Homo sapiens: one gene and its partners. The protein of the gene in region 2 interacts with the protein of the main gene of each other region in a biochemical or structural test. Each region holds a gene or a part of one and is shown on either strand. Other genes may lie near its edges.

Region 1 (5,239 bases), on a different chromosome or scaffold from region 2:
ATAATAGCTAACATTTACTGAGAGCTTACCATGTGTTAGGCTTCGTTCTAAGAACTTGATATTTAATCCTCGTAATAGCCCTATGAGCTTGATAAATTTGTTACTTTCACTTTATAGATGAGTAAATGGAGAAATAGATTAAGATGACTTGCACTAGGACACTAGGGTTTTTTTGGTTTTGTTTTTTGGGGGTTTTTTTGTTTTTGTTTTTGAGACAGTCTTGTGCTTGTCACCCAGGCTAGAGTGCAGTGGTGCAATCTCGGCTCACTGCAACCTCCGCCTCCCGGGTTCAAGCGATTCTCCTGCCTCAGCCTCCCGAGTAGCTGGGATTACAGCCACCTGCTACCATGCCTGGCTAATTTTTGTATTTTTAGTAGAGACAGGGTTTCACCATCTTGGCTTCCCAAAGTGCTGGGATTACAAGCGTAACCCGCCATGCCTGGCCCCGGCTAACTTTTGTATTTTTTGTAGAGACGGGATTTCACCATGTTGCCCAGGCTGGGACTGTTTCTGTTGACTCCCCCCTTACCCCTAGTTTTAGGTCACTTTTTTGCTGCTTTGCAAGTTTAGTGATTTTTTTTTTTTTTTAACTTCGATGCTGGACAGTGTGAATGTTAAGTGATGAATTTTATGGTCTTTCTTTAAAGAGTGTTGAATTTTGTCTTGGTAGGCAGCTAAGTTACTTGTGGATCAACTTGTTTTTAATTTTTTGTTTTTGTTTTTAAATTGTGAGATGGAGTTTCACTCTTGTTGCCTAGGTTGGAGAGCAATGGCACGATCTCGGCTCACTGCAACCTCTGCCCTCCCCCGGTTTAAATGATTCTCCTGCCTCAGCCGTCCGAGTAGCTGAGATTACAGGCAACTGCCACGATGCCCGGCTAATTTTTTGCAGTTGTAGAAGAGATGGGGTTTCACCATGTTGGCCAGGCTAGTCTCGAACTCCTGACCTCAGGTGATCCACCCGTCTGGGCTACCCACAGTGCTGGGATTACAGGTTTGAGCCACCGCGCCTGGCCGCTTTTAATCTTTATTAGGGCATGTCTAGGGTGGTCTATACTCTAGGACTGGTTTAGCCCTACTACTAAGATGTGAATTTTCTAGTATTCCTTCTGAATGTCCTGGTTTTTAGTGAGGCTTTTGCTCTCTGGCTAGTTGGCAATCACATTTTTCCCAGCTCTACTGAACTCTTAGAATTGTTCACTTTCTGGTAGGTGTTCTTTGCCTAGCTTTGTGGAATTTCTCACCCTAACACATGTAGCTTTAGCTTTCAGCCCAAGACTCAAGGAACACCTTGCAGATTTCTAGACCTCTTTATCTGTGTAGGTCCCCCTTCTCCAGTAGTCTGCTTTGCACACTGCAGCTGCCTTAGCTACCCTGAACTCTGATCTCTGCTGCCTTAACGTGATGGGACTGCTGTGCTCTGCTTGGGTTCTTCCTGCCTGCTCTGCTGCCTGGGACGTGCCTCTAGGTGGTAAGCTTAGGCAGTTGTCAGGCTCACATAGGCTGCACTCAAGTGTCACAGTTCTGGGCTGCTTTTGACTAGTGTCTGAAAACAGTTTTTTCGTATATTTTATGGAGATTTCTAATTACAATGAGAGGGCAGCTTTAGGAATGATTACTTCATCATAGGCCTATGTTGTTTAGTATTAAGTATAGGAAAATAATTGTGTCTCTGTCCAGTTGAATGGTAATATATTTTAAGACAGCAACTTAAAATTTTAAGATAGTCCGCTAGAACTTTCTTTGATGATGAAAATGTTCTGTTCCTGTGGGGTGTAGCCACTGGCCATACGTCACTATTGTATACGTGAAATGTGGCTAGTGCCACTGAAGAGATGAATTTTTAAATTAATTTAAATAGCTCTATGTGGGTAATGGCTCCTGTAATGGACAGTGTGGCTGAAGGTTTTCTCTCAGTATTAGAAAATCTCGACCTTACAACGTTTGCATTTAAAAAAGATGCCTGTGGTTGATCTTTAACATATTCTAATTTAGAAAAATATAGTTTTTTTAAGTATAAAAATAGTTGCATGTTCATTGGAGATCATTTGGAAAATGCAGAAAGCACAAAAAAAGTTGAGCACACATAATCCCAAAGATAAGTAAGATTAATATTTTGGTGTATTTCCTTCCAGTTTTCTATAAAGAAGAACCCACTTTAGTGAAAAATCGTTTGGTTTTATTTTAAATATTTCTCTCTCAAAAGGAAATATGTATGGATGGCAAGGTTAAAATTGTGAAAATTTGTATCCTTCCAGAATTAGCTTTATATTGTTATCAAATAATAGCATGGCCTAAACAGGCTTTCCTACCTCTATAGGCTGTATATGTGTAGCAGTTTCAGGAATAACATATTAATCAGGAAGCTTTTTTTTTTAGTCTATTAGTTGCAGACTGGTGTTTAATAGAAAACTTATTTGGCTATTGGCTGCTTTTTGACTTCAGCTGGAAGGAAGCTCAAACATAATATTTGGCTCATTTCCACATAAGACTAAGGGTTACTGACTCTGGTCTGAAGACTGCTTGCAGTTTAGTCGTCTGAGTGACTCCTGTGGCTGAGGATGTGCTGGGTGCTTAGAATCCAAAGGTCTGGCTAGGCTTAAGGGGTTCATGGTCTAGTTAGGGAGAAAAACATGGCAGATTTTCTTCTGTTTTTCTTGGGGCAAAATCAGATTTTACTGTTTAATAGTACAAAATTTTTGCAAAATTAGCAGATAATACTCATCATTTCTAACTTCTGAAATCTTTTGTTTAGGTGAGACATGGAATCCATTAAAATTGCATTATCAGTTAAGAAATGTACGGGAACGATTAGCTAAAAACCTGGTGGAAAAGGGTGTATTGACAACAGAGAAACAGAACTTCCTACTTTTTGACATGACAACACATCCCCTCACCAATAACAACATTAAGCAGCGCCTCATCAAGAAAGTACAGGAAGCCGTTCTTGACAAATGGGTGAATGACCCTCACCGCATGGACAGGCGCTTGCTGGCCCTCATTTACCTGGCTCATGCCTCGGACGTCCTGGAGAATGCTTTTGCTCCTCTTCTGGACGAGCAGTATGATTTGGCTACCAAGAGAGTGCGGCAGCTTCTCGACTTAGACCCTGAAGTGGAATGTCTGAAGGCCAACACCAATGAGGTTCTGTGGGCGGTGGTGGCGGCGTTCACCAAGTAACTCTGCTCGGGGTGAACCATTCTCCTTTCTCTCAAGTAAACCAGTAGTTTTTCTTCTGTTGACTTCTGGTTTTCTGTAATTTGTACTTTCCCACACTATAATTGGCTTCTGTTTTACAAAATGGTGGGTGGCTTTTTCTTTTTTGTACGTGTACAGGATTCTGCTGGTACGAGAGGCCTTCCTCTTTCTGTTTTTAAAAAAAGTTTTACTGCCATATTGGCATTCCATTCCCTGTTGCCATCCTCACTGTTACCTGTTTTGGGTTTCTGGTCTACTTTGACTTTCAAAGTACCTCCAGCCTCCTCATACGCACAGCTTTTGGATGACCTCAGCTTGAGTTTCTCCATATGTGCATGTACATCTAGCATTCTGCCTACAGTTCAGACAGAAGTCACAAAAAGGCCTTCAACTCACCAAAGGTAAATATCTGTATCTATTAGGACATTTTTTACATAGACTTCAGTTGAGATGTATACTTAGCAAAATTATTTTTAAATTGAAACAGCACAGTAAATACTTAATATAAAATGTCCCTTGGATTTTGCTTCCCATGTAAATCTATTGTATTATTACACTTGTTATAATTTTAACTATAAAGGTCCAATTGTTTCACAGAGCCAGTTTGGGATGGGCTGCATTCCATTTATGCTGTATATAGTTTGAATTATATATAAATTACCCCTTCTTCTGGCCACCCCTGCTCCCATCTTAGTATTTTGCAAGATCTAATCAGTTGTACACCTGGTGCCCCTCGCTTGCTTCAATCATGGTTATTTGATGGCAAAATCGACCTCTTGTCGCTGAAGGAGAGAGAAAAGATGTGTGTCTGATTGGTCCTGGGATTTTTTGAGCTGTGCCATTTATGGTACTCTTTGCCTATGCATCCCCTTGTTAGATTTTTTTTAAATTTTATCTTACTGTTTTTATAATTTCTATTGGGAAGAGGCTTGTGACCAGTACCAATCTTGAGTTTCTTTTTCTGTCCACAAGTAAATTAATATCTGCTCTGAAATGTCATTTATCTACTCACACATTCTTGGGGAAAAAAATCAAATGTCAGTCCTAGCAGATGTTGCATGTAAATTGGTAGCAAGTAATGATTACAACCCAGAGGATTAAGAATTTTGTAACAGAAAGCTCTATGTTTTAATTTTTTATATACAATTAGGATAATTAGCATTGTCAGACTATAAACCTTTGCTTTTTAAAGTTTATTTTTACTATTTCTTTATCACTTTATTGTATCATCACCATTGGTTTCATAATGTAAATACTATATGTTGAACAAATTAAATGTCAAAATTTTTTATTACCATAGTCCATGTTAATAGTGGGGCTTTCAGGTGTTTAGAGATTTTTTTTGTTGTTGTTAACATTCATTGCAAAAGTACTAGATGGTGTATAACTCTAGAGTTGAATTTTAAGGGATTCCCTAATATGTATACTATCTTTTTATCTGAAGTAATAAATAAACAATGATCTTGAAAGTGCCTGAATCAGAGCAAGCATGTCATTTGTGTTTTTGTATTCTCATTTAGTTTTCTTTCAAATGAAATGTTACTTACTGTAGCATTGTAATATTTTAATGCAGGGCTTGGGTTTCTTAAAGGGCCAGATAGTAGATATTTTAGGCTTTGTGAGCCGCCAGCTGTGTCAGTTGCAACTACTGAACTTTACTGAATGAAAACTGTTATAGATAATACAAATAAATAGGTTAGACTGTGTTCCAATAAAACTTTATTTGCAAAAACGGGGCTGGTCAAGGCCCCAGTTTTAATGCATGGAAAAAAGACAGATTTTTCTATCCATTGGAGTAACCTTCTTTACCTTCAAAAATGATACTGCTGGTGGTAACTACATGTAGGAACTATTAAAGTGTCTTCCCATAAAGTAGATATTGGGAAACTGATACCAGTATACTGGAATTTCTTATCGAGTGAAAAGTTCCTGTTTTTCACTTGAGAAGATGTTAGAGGTGAGGTAATAGATTTCTGAGGTATTCACTTCATCAGCAGCATCAGTATTCCCAAGCAAGGGGGAAAAGGACCTCACCTGAACT
Region 2 (3,310 bases):
TGTCATCTGGACTTACCAGTTCATGCCAGTGTCCCTGTGACTTATGCATAGTGTGCGCCACAGCCCTCTAGAGGTACCTGGAGCCCGGACTGCCAGGCTGGAGGCTCTGGGGTACTGAAGGTGAGCTGTCTGGGCAAACTATTAAGAACAAGACGAACTGTTCACAATGGAGCTTCTCCCACAGATGGGGAGCTCTGTGAGGCCTTCACCTGGGTGCATGTTGGACTTCCATTGCTGTTGCTGTTGTCCCTAGACAAGCCCGTTAGCAAGAAGCACCGGCAGGGGAGCCATGCACTCCATAGGCTTGGGATCACCCCCGGGAAAGCGATCTTCCCCGGGCTACCACCCCCAGCTGCAGTTCTGTGTTAGTGCATCCTTCAAAGCTAGGAGAATTCTAGGGTGACCAGTGAGCTAATGTTGAGTGAGCAGGTATTGACTTGAACACACTGCAGGCCTTTGGCTGTCTCATGCTGTCCTTACTCTTCTTGGGAACAGTGAGTCACTCAGCTGGCCAGGGTGGGGATGCATCCTGGTGAAGAGACAGCTTTCCCTGAAGATGCTACAGAAAGTTACTGTCAGATTTCATTTGTTTCTGTTTCCTGAGATCAACTAACAGAAGAATCTAATGGTGAGAGTGTCTTCATTCATGTTTTACGTTTTATCAAGGCACACTGGAAAGGGAATTATGTGGCTGACTTCCCTTGGCCTTCCCAAGAGAAGATTCTGTTCTTATGTCAGTGTGGCTTCTGGAAGTGTCTCCTATCCTCCCATCCTCCAGGCCTGTGGTGTGACTTCTGCCCCGAAGTTCCTACTATAGTGAGTCATCTGGGGAGAGGCCACTGAAAAGAGGCCTTCCCTTCCCATTTCCTCCCCTGCCTCCTTAGAACACACTCTAAGTCAGAACTTAATCTAAGAAGAAGGAAGCTGGACCAGGAACCTTGGAAGTCAGCCAGCCCTAGAACAGTCAGCCTAAATTTTGGCCGTAATGGCTTTTTTGGTTTTTTGTTTTGTTTCTGAGATGGAGTCTCACTCCGTTGCCAGGCTGGAGTGCTGTGGCGCTATCTCAGCTTACCGAATCCTCCGACTCCCTGGTTCAAGCGATTGTCCTGCCTCAGCCTCCGGAGTAGCTGGGATTACAGGCATGCACCACCACACCCAGCTAATTTTTGTATTTTTAGTAGAGACGGGGTTTCACCGTGTTGTCCAGGATGGTCTCCATCTCCTGACCTCATGATGTGCCCACTTCGGCCTTCCAAAGTGGCCGCAAAGTGGCCCACTTCGGCCAAAGTGCACTTCGGCCTTCCAAAGTGCATTACAGGCGTGAGCCACCACGCCCGGCCTGGCCTTTTTTTTTTTTTTCTTTTGAGACACAGTTTCACTCGTTGCCCAGGCTGGAGTGCAGTGGCGCAATCTCGGCTCACTGCAACTTCTGCCTCCTAGGTTCAAGCAGTTCTCCTGCCTCAGCCTCCCAAGTAGTTGGGATTACGGGCATGCACCACCATGCCTGGATAATTTTTTCTTATTTTTAGTAGAGACAGGATTTCATCATGTTGGCCACGCTGGTTTCGAACTCCTGACCACATGTGGTCCACCCACCTTGGCCTCAATTATGTGCATTTTGGTATATTTACTTGTATTTCAACATCTTGTGAGTTTGAAAAACCTGAAAGGCCAGAATGCTTCCTTTTATTTCTCACCATTTGGGCAGCACCTAAGTGGTTTTGTAAAATGCAGCATCTGGTGCTGTGGGTCTCTCTCAGGCCTTGAGGGACACTTCCTTCCTCCCCACTCGCCTCCTCTCCACTAGACTTTGGTTCCTAGAGGGCGTGGGGCCGGGTCTGAGGTTCTTGCCTGCCTTCCCTCCCATTGGTCTTTGGTTGCTCATCCCTCTAACTGCACCCCTTCTTGGTCCTTCCTCCACAGACTTCAGATAATAGATAAGTCATTAGCAAACCAGACCGAATCTTTAGGGTGAAGAGCTCCCCAAAGCCATCTGGTGAGGTCATTGTGGGGACCAGGGACTGATTATTTGTCACCTGGATCACAAAGATGGGACTGTCTGCTCAGGCTGGTGGTGACAGGATCCTGACCCGTGGTCCTCTCCCGCTCCCTCTGCTCCACCAGGACACATGTATAGGACACTGTGCTGTGTGCAGTGGAGAAATCTCCCTGGGCCAGGGGAAAGTTCAGACAGTGCCTCTAGATTGTGTTTTGCCTCCTCCAATGTAGAGTTGACATCTGGACCCCAGAGCCCAGCAGGGCTTTCTGTCAGACATGCTAGGGTGGTAGAAATGGGCCCTCCAGGTCCCCCTGCAGTGCACTGGGCAGAGACCTCCGGAAAGCCGGCAGCGGGAGCGCTTCCTGGGCAGCTTCCCCCAGCACAGTGTTCCCAAACCAGTCCATCCGGAAAACAGTCTGTACAGCAAATGCTGTGTGAGATCTTAGGCTTTTCACTTTTTTTGTTTTGTTTTGTTTTTGAAAGAAAGAAAAAAATACAATTAACAAGCCTCTTTTGTAAATGGGTTTCCTTTCTATGTATAAAATCGTGGTGGTCCCTTGTTTTTACATGTTCATGCTGTGTAATTTTGAGATGTTACTGAGATATGTTCTGAACATAATGTGCATTTTTTTCTGTACAGATGAAATGGGAGAATTTAATAAAGAGTTTGCAGGTTTTTACTTGTTAAATCTTCTCTGTGGTGACTGGGAGGAACCTCAACCACCTCTCTGCTAGTGGAAGCAGTGGCCTTGAACTTGCCAACTGATGCTCACAAACCTTGCTGATCAGGTCCTTAGTTCTTGACCAGTTAGGTTCAGCAGAGTAGGACTCAAGGACTTTTAGAGGACTAGGGACCTTGATCCCCTTGGTTTCTGTATGCTGCTAGTAGCAGAGCTGGAAGTCACGTCTGGGGTTTTCTGACTCTTGAGCCAATGTGTCCAGAATTATTCATTCTACTGATATGTTTAAGCCCACATCATGAGGCTCTGTCCTGGGGAGAGCAGAATCTGGCAGCTCTGTGTACAGATCTGACGTGTGGATGGCTGGTCCTGAGAGGCGCCTGATCTTCAGTGGCCACCCTTCCCCATCACCCCCTTGTCAGTCTTCTCCCTCACATTCCAGCAGCCCAGTCCCTGCGTCAGTAGCCTTTCCAGACCTCCTCCCTGAGCCTTCTGCTGCTGCCTGTCTCGGCGAAGTTAATTTGCGTCTGCGTGTTAAAAATGAATGGCTTCAGGAATTTGCATGGTAGCAGGGGTTTCTTGAAGTGGTAATATCCATACTACGATTTGAGGAATGAGATGTGCTGCGAGA
Region 3 (7,135 bases), on a different chromosome or scaffold from region 2:
GCGATTAGGAAACTAAAAGGAAAGACCAGGTAGTAACTTAAATTAGACTTTTAATTTTTTTTTTTAAGACAAGGTCTTGTTCTTTGCTCGGCCTGCTATTAATATTTTAATTATAATAAAATGCTTTAGGATTGAGTCACTTTTTAAGGCGGCCAATTTTCTTCATTCATAGCCAATAATCAACAAGTTGGACACTGACTGACTGTGACTGATTTTAAAAACCTTTTTGGGCTGGGCGTGGTGGCTCACATCTGTAATCCCAGCACTTTGGGAGGTCGAGGCAGGCGGATCACCTGAGGTCAGGAGTTCGACACCAGCCTGGCTAACGTGGTAAAACCCCGTTTCTACTAAAAATACAAAAAATTAGCCGGGCGTGGTGGTGCATGCCTGTAATCCCAGCTACTTGGGAGGCTGACACAGGAGAATTGAACGCGGGAGGCAGAGGTTGCGGTGAGCCAAGATCGTGCCACTACACTCTAGCTTAGGTAACAAGAGCGAAACTCTGTCTCAAAAAAAAAACAAAAAAAAACTTTTTGATTAGTGAATTTTTTTTACCAGCTTTAAAGAAGCTTTTACTTCTAATCTCCTATTGCTAATAAAGATGAACTATACTTGATGGAGGATCATCAGCAGCTTGAAAAAGCGTAGCATTAACATACTTTATAATTAAAAATACATATGAATTTCATACGTATAATTCCCATACGTATAGTGGATAACAGTAGATTGTTTGAAAAAAGATAACTGACAAGTACCAGGAGAATTTTAGCAGCACTGTTCATAATGAACTCTTGAATGTGCATTAACCCATAGAATGAATAGTGGTATATTCATGTAATGAAATATTAATCAGGATGAACTGGATTAAACTATATGCAACAACATGGACAAATCTCACAAACATTATATTGATCAAAAGAATACATTAAAATATTAACCCAATAAAATAGAGTTTAAAAACAGGCAAAACTAAAATATATTGTTTAGGGATATACATACATGTCAAAACTACAGGGAAGTGGGCAGCATGTGATTAGGGGCAGGCATAAGAGAAGCCTTCCAGGATGCTGATATTGTTCTATTGGTGATTACATGACTGTTGGCTTTCAAACTACTTGTTAAACTGTATATATGTGCTTTATACAATTTTCTGGATACACTGTATTTCACAATTTTAGAAAACTTAAACAATAAAGCATGTAACTGGATGTTCAGCTCTCATACTTCAGTTTTAAAACACTGGAGTTCATTAAAAGGAGATGGGATGCTTTCAGACATCTGTGGTTATTCCAGTTGCACATCACTGAAATTATTAGGAACATCCAGTTGATGTTCTTTTTTCCTAGAACCTGTCTCTTTACAGACTAACTCACTCTTATTCCAGTTAAGAGTTATTACCTCCTGGCGGGGCGCAGTGGCTCACACCTGTAATCCCAGCACTTTGGGAGGCCAAGGCAGTTGGATCACCTGAGGTCAGGAATTCAAGACCAGCCTGGCCAACATGGTGAAACCCCGTCTCTACAAAAATACAAAAATTAGCCGGGGATGGTGGCAGGTGCATGTAATACCAGCTACTTGGGAGGCTGAGGAAGCAGAATCGCTTGAATCCGGGAGGTGGAGGTTGCAGTGAGCCAAGATCACGCCACTGCTTTGCAGCCTGGGTGACAGAATGAGATTCTATCTCAAACAAACAAACAACAAAAAAAAGAGTTATCACCTCCTGTAAGTCTTTCCCAACATCTCTTCTTCCCTCTCCTACTGCTCCTTCCCACCACCCATCTGATTTACGTGCTTTTCCTCTGTGTTTCCTTCCTACTCAGAACACACTTATACACATATCACATTGTTCTGAAATGGTCTGCTGACTTTCTGGCTTCTACTCCCAGCATCTCCAACCATCCCTATGCCACTAAACCATAAATTGACCTCAAAAGCAGGGACAATTGTTTTTGTTCTCTCTTTCTATGACATATGAGTCATTCAATAAAATTTTTGGTGATTAAACAAATAAGTGAAAATGTATTGCCATATTTCCAATGGATAATACTTCTTGCCAATTTTTACCACAGTGACATGAGAAATATGATGAAAAGCTTTTCTTTCACAGTAAGTAGTAAGTATTCAATAAATGGCATTACTAGGAGAAAGCTTTCCAAGAAAGAGAGGATGGTTGAAAAACATTATCCACAAATTAAATAGATGAGAAATGAAAAGACCACTAGGAGTCAAAAGCAGTAATTGGCTTACTCCCCTTACAGGTAACTTAAGAAACGATTCTAATAAATGAAAAGTTTTATACATTAGCAAGTCAATTAAAACACTGTTCATGAGTTAATAATCTATATCAAAACTCTTACCAAAGGCAATAATAACAAATAAGCAGATTCCTGATTTCAACAGGAGATAAACCTATTTTATTTTGGTCAGGCTTGTGCTCAATGTTTACTTTCTCAGTTGAGGTCAGTGTTATTGAACTGAGATAGTATCTAATTTTAACTGTGCTTGAAAGGTTATACTCTTCAAATTATATTTAAATTTCTTGATTGTTTTCATAAGACAATGATACTTAATATTTAATTTAATTAGTTTATATTTTTTGAGGCAGTCTTACTCTGTCACCCAGGCTAGAGTGCAGTAGTGTGACCTTGGCTCATTGCAGCCTCTGCCTCTTGGGTTCAAGAGATTCTCCCATCAGCATAGCTAGGATTACAGGTGCATGCCACCACACCCAGCTAATTTTTTTTTTCCTTTAGTAGAGATGGGGTTTCACCATGTTGGCCAGGCTGGTCTCGAACTCCTGGCCTCAAGTGATTTGCCCGCCTCAAACCTCCCAAAGTGCTGGGATTATAGATGTGAGCCACTGCGTCTGGCCAGATGCTTAATATTTTAAAACCAGTCTGTGGTAGTTACCCCTCAGAAGAATTTTTTTTTTTCTTTTAAGACAGGGTCTCACTCTGTCACCCAGGTTGGAGTACAGTGGCACAAACACAGCTCACTCCAGCCTTGAACTCCTGGGCTCAAGCAATCCTCTCGCCTCAATCTCCCAAGTAGCTGAAACTGCAGGTATGTGACACCATGCCAGGCTAATTTTTATATTTTTTGTAGAGATGAGGTCTCACTATGTTGCCCAGGTTGGTCTAGAATTCCTGGCCTCAGGCAATCCTTCTGTCTCCCAAAGTGCTGGGATTACAGACAGGAGCCACCGTGCCTGCTTGAAAGACACATAGTTTCTAAAAAAATGATAATACTGGGTTCTAAACAGAGGATCTTAGGGAACTCTCCAGTAAAAGTTTGGGAGTTTGGGACACAAAATTTAACATTTAGGATTTTTTCCTTTTTTGACTTGTCACAAATCCCAAACCATGTAAAAACAAGCAATTATATACACATTAAAACATACTCACAAAGAACATAAAAATGTTATTAAGCCCTTAATTTGGACACAAAAATGAAATGGGCTTTGCTGTTTTCATTAGGCTGATTCTCTTTTCCCTAAAGGAAAGAGTCTAAAAGTCTCTGCCTGGTAACAAAATCTATAATCTGGTCCAAATCGAATTTACTGATTTTGAATCCCATTGTTCTCCACCTACTTCAGTCATACTGGCCTACTCACAGTTATCTCCCAAACTCATCAAGCTCATGATACCTTTGCTCACTCAGGTTCCCTCATCCAGAACGTGTTTCCTTTTCTCCATTCATGTTAATCCTCCCATTTTTAAAGGCATGGCTTGTTTTACTGCCTTTTTCTATTCTTCCCCGGATTACTCTATCTCATGATGGTTTCTCCTCTCTCTAACTCCCTTGGCTCATTCTAACATGCAAAAACTTGCTTTTTATTGTTGTTTACTTTAAAAAAAATATTTTGCATTGTGAAATATAATGTACACACAGAAGAATAAACAAAACAAAGTAAAAAGCTTAATTATTCCAAAGTGAAGATCTATGGCCCAGGTGCAGTGGCTCACGCTTGTAATCCCAGCACTTTGGGAGGCCAAGGCAGGTGGATCACTTGAGATCAGGAGTTCAAGACTAGCCTGGCTAACATGCTGAAAACCCTTCCCTACTAAGAATACAAAAATTAGCCAGGAGGGACAGAGCAAGACTCCGTATCAAAAATAAATAAATAAATAAAAAAGGCCGGGAGCAGTAGTTTACGCCTGTAATCCCAGCACTTTGGGAGGCCACACCTATAATCCCAGCACTTTGGGAGGCCAAGTTGGGTGGGTCGCCTGAGAGGTCAGGAGTTCAAGACCAGCCTGACCAATATGGTGAAACCCCATCTCTACTAAAAATACAAAAATTAGCCAGGCATGGTGGCGGGTGCCTGTAATCCCAGCTACTCAGGAGATTGAGACAGGAGAATTGCTTGAACTCGGGAGGCGCAGGTTGCAGTGAGCCAAGATGGTGCCACTATACTCCAACCTGGGTGACAGAGCAAGACTCTGTCTTAAAAACAAAAACAAAAACAAAAACAAAACTATGAAACTTCCTCTAGGTCCAGAAACAGAAAATTGTTACTATCTAGAAATCCTCTCCATTTTCCTTCCTAATTACTAACACCCTTTTCCTTCCCCTATCCCTTACAAAAAGATAATCACTATTCTAAAAACTATAGTAATTCCTGGCTTGATTTTGTTTATAATTGTACCACCTAAATATGCAACCTCAAATACAATAGTTTTTTGAGTTTCATATAAATGGAATCATACAGTATGTATATTTTTGTGTTTGGCTTTTTTTATTGAACATAATGTGAGAAATATACATGTTGTATAACAATGTTCATTTTCATTCTGTATAGAAAACATATTTATACTCATTTAAACAAATGGATGACTCTTTTTTTTTTTTGATGATTCATTTTTATCCATTCTGCTGTTGATGGACCTTCGGGTTACTTAACTTTTAAAAAGTATGTATCTTTTTGTCTCTCCAGCTAGAATGCAAGTTTCTTGAAGGCAGGGACCATATACTATACTATTTTATATTTACCTTAGTATTAATATTTAGCATAATCCTAAGCACATAATGGGTGTCCTCAATCACATTAAATATTGATTAAATGAATCTATTGATAGTTTGAGAGATAAGAAAAAAATAAGTACAGTTGGGAATCAATTTAATATTTTTAGAGATAGTTATGTAACTGGCCTTTTGTAACTACTACTATTTAAATAAATCACAAAGTTTGACCTCTTCTATTCATTTACACCTAAGGATTTATTGTCTTTTATTCTTCCTGAGCCAAATGAAAGCTAAATATTTGTTAACTATCCTCAAAAATAAAATTAGAGCAATTCAAAAGGTGGTTAATTGTTATGTGCTATTATTTATTATTTTTTGAGGCCTTGCTCTGTTGTTCAGGCTGGAGTGCAGTGACACAATCCTGGTTCACTGAAGCCTCGACCTCCGAGGCTTAAGCCATCCTCTTGACTCAGCCTCCTGAGTAGCTAGGACTACAGGCATGTGCCACCATGTCCAGCTAATTTTTTTGTTTTAAATTTTTTGTAGAGATGGTGTCTCACCATGTTGCCCAGGCTGGTCTTGAACTCCTGGGCCCAAGCAATCCTCTTACCTTGGCCTCCCAAGTGTTAGGATTACAGGAATTAGCCATTGCATCCAGCCATCTGCTTATTTTGTACAGTATCTCACCAATATGTTAAGTACTCACCATGGCCATAGCTCTTAATGAGCTGCTTTATTTTTTATTCTATTTCCTAAAATTTATATTAACCATTATAAACACATGAAGACAAGCCCAAAAGCAAAAATTCCAGTGCATAAGGTCAGCAGGAAATTAATCATTCCTATTCAAAGCTAAAACAAACCAAATAGCTTTTAGTTCTATATCCTCTTTTTATACAGTCAGTGACTGTTTCCTAGGTAATGTGTAAACGTCTCAAAAGAGTATTTATATCACCTAATCTTCAGTCCTATTCTGACATTCTCTTGGAGAGCTGGTTTTGCCTTTTCGTTTATTTGCCTTTTATAAAACTGAAGGCTCATCAACTTCTCAGCAAACAGGAAAATATATTTCCGGGCAAGAATTTCTGATATACCTACATCTTGGCCAGGTACACATAAGCATGTCTCTAATATTAGTTTTAACAATACACAGACTATAACTGGTCTGTAAATTTTGTTCAAGTTGGTAATTTAACAAGAAAAAAAGTAAAAAGGAAAATAGTAAATAAATGAAAGGCAAAATCTAAACAACAATGGTATTTCCAAGTCGAAGAATTATGTAGAAAAGAAGAGCTGTTACTACTTGTATGCAGCCAATTCACTTCTAGCTAAGGATAATTATCAAAGCCAAATTTAGTACTTTTAAAATCTAAAATAACATTCTAATTTTGTATGTTTTCAAAACTGAGGCCAGTAATAAATATACCTCTTTCTTTTCTTGCAGGCGGTGGGCGAGGGGGGGCGGTTATTTAAGGCTTTCCTGGAAAGAAAGCAGATTGTTTAAAATGTTACCTTCGTAACTTCTTCATGAGGGAATAGTGTGATGAGAAAACACAGCAAAAAGTTACAAATGAAGGATGATGATGTATACTAGTAGAGAAGCCAGGGAAATTTCTGGTTATATCACAAGACTCAGGACCTTAAGACTAACTGTACTATAAAATAAATGTTCCATTAAATAAGGAGACATTTAGGGAAAAAAGAGAAAAGCTAAAATTATTTTTAAAAATTTTCAAAAATTAAAATAATCCTCAATTGTTTATGTATGTGTGTGTGTGTGTGTGTGTGTATATATATATATATATATATATATATATTTTTTTTTTTTTTTTTTTTTTTTTTTTTTGAGGCAGGGTCTCACTCTGTCATCCAGGCTGGAGTGCAGTGGTGCAATCTTGGCTCATTGCAACCTCCGCCTCCCAGGTTCAAGTGATTCTCCTGCCTCAGCCTCCCGAGTACCTGGGATTACAGGCACCCGCCGCCACACATGGCTAATTTTTTATTTTTAGTAGAGACGGGGTTTCACCATGTTGGCCAGGCTAGTCTTGAACTCCTGGCCTCAAGTGATTCACTCACCTCGGCTCCCCAAAGTGCTGGGATTACAGGCGTGAGCCACCGCGTAATCCAACTGTTGATATTTGCCTTATAAAGATGCACAGAGGAAAATAAA

Evidence for each region.
Region 1: the proteins of GLG1 (region 2) and GOLPH3 form a complex in vitro, tested with the Homo sapiens proteins (one study listed by BioGRID).
Region 3: the proteins of GLG1 (region 2) and GOLPH3L form a complex in vitro, tested with the Homo sapiens proteins (one study listed by BioGRID).

The regions. Positions count from the first base shown.
Region 1 is NC_000005.10:32,124,153-32,129,391, reverse strand, and holds the end of GOLPH3 (Golgi phosphoprotein 3), read left to right. Parts: intron 1-2,755; coding exon 2,756-3,180; 3' UTR 3,181-4,676; downstream 4,677-5,239. UniProt on the Homo sapiens protein: Phosphatidylinositol-4-phosphate-binding protein that links Golgi membranes to the cytoskeleton and may participate in the tensile force required for vesicle budding from the Golgi.
Region 2 is NC_000016.10:74,446,805-74,450,114, reverse strand, and holds the end of GLG1 (Golgi apparatus protein 1 isoform 3 precursor), read left to right. Parts: 3' UTR 1-2,675; downstream 2,676-3,310. UniProt on the Homo sapiens protein: Binds fibroblast growth factor and E-selectin (cell-adhesion lectin on endothelial cells mediating the binding of neutrophils).
Region 3 is NC_000001.11:150,687,067-150,694,201, forward strand, and holds part of GOLPH3L (Golgi phosphoprotein 3-like), read right to left. Parts: intron 1-7,135. UniProt on the Homo sapiens protein: Phosphatidylinositol-4-phosphate-binding protein that may antagonize the action of GOLPH3 which is required for the process of vesicle budding at the Golgi and anterograde transport to the plasma membrane.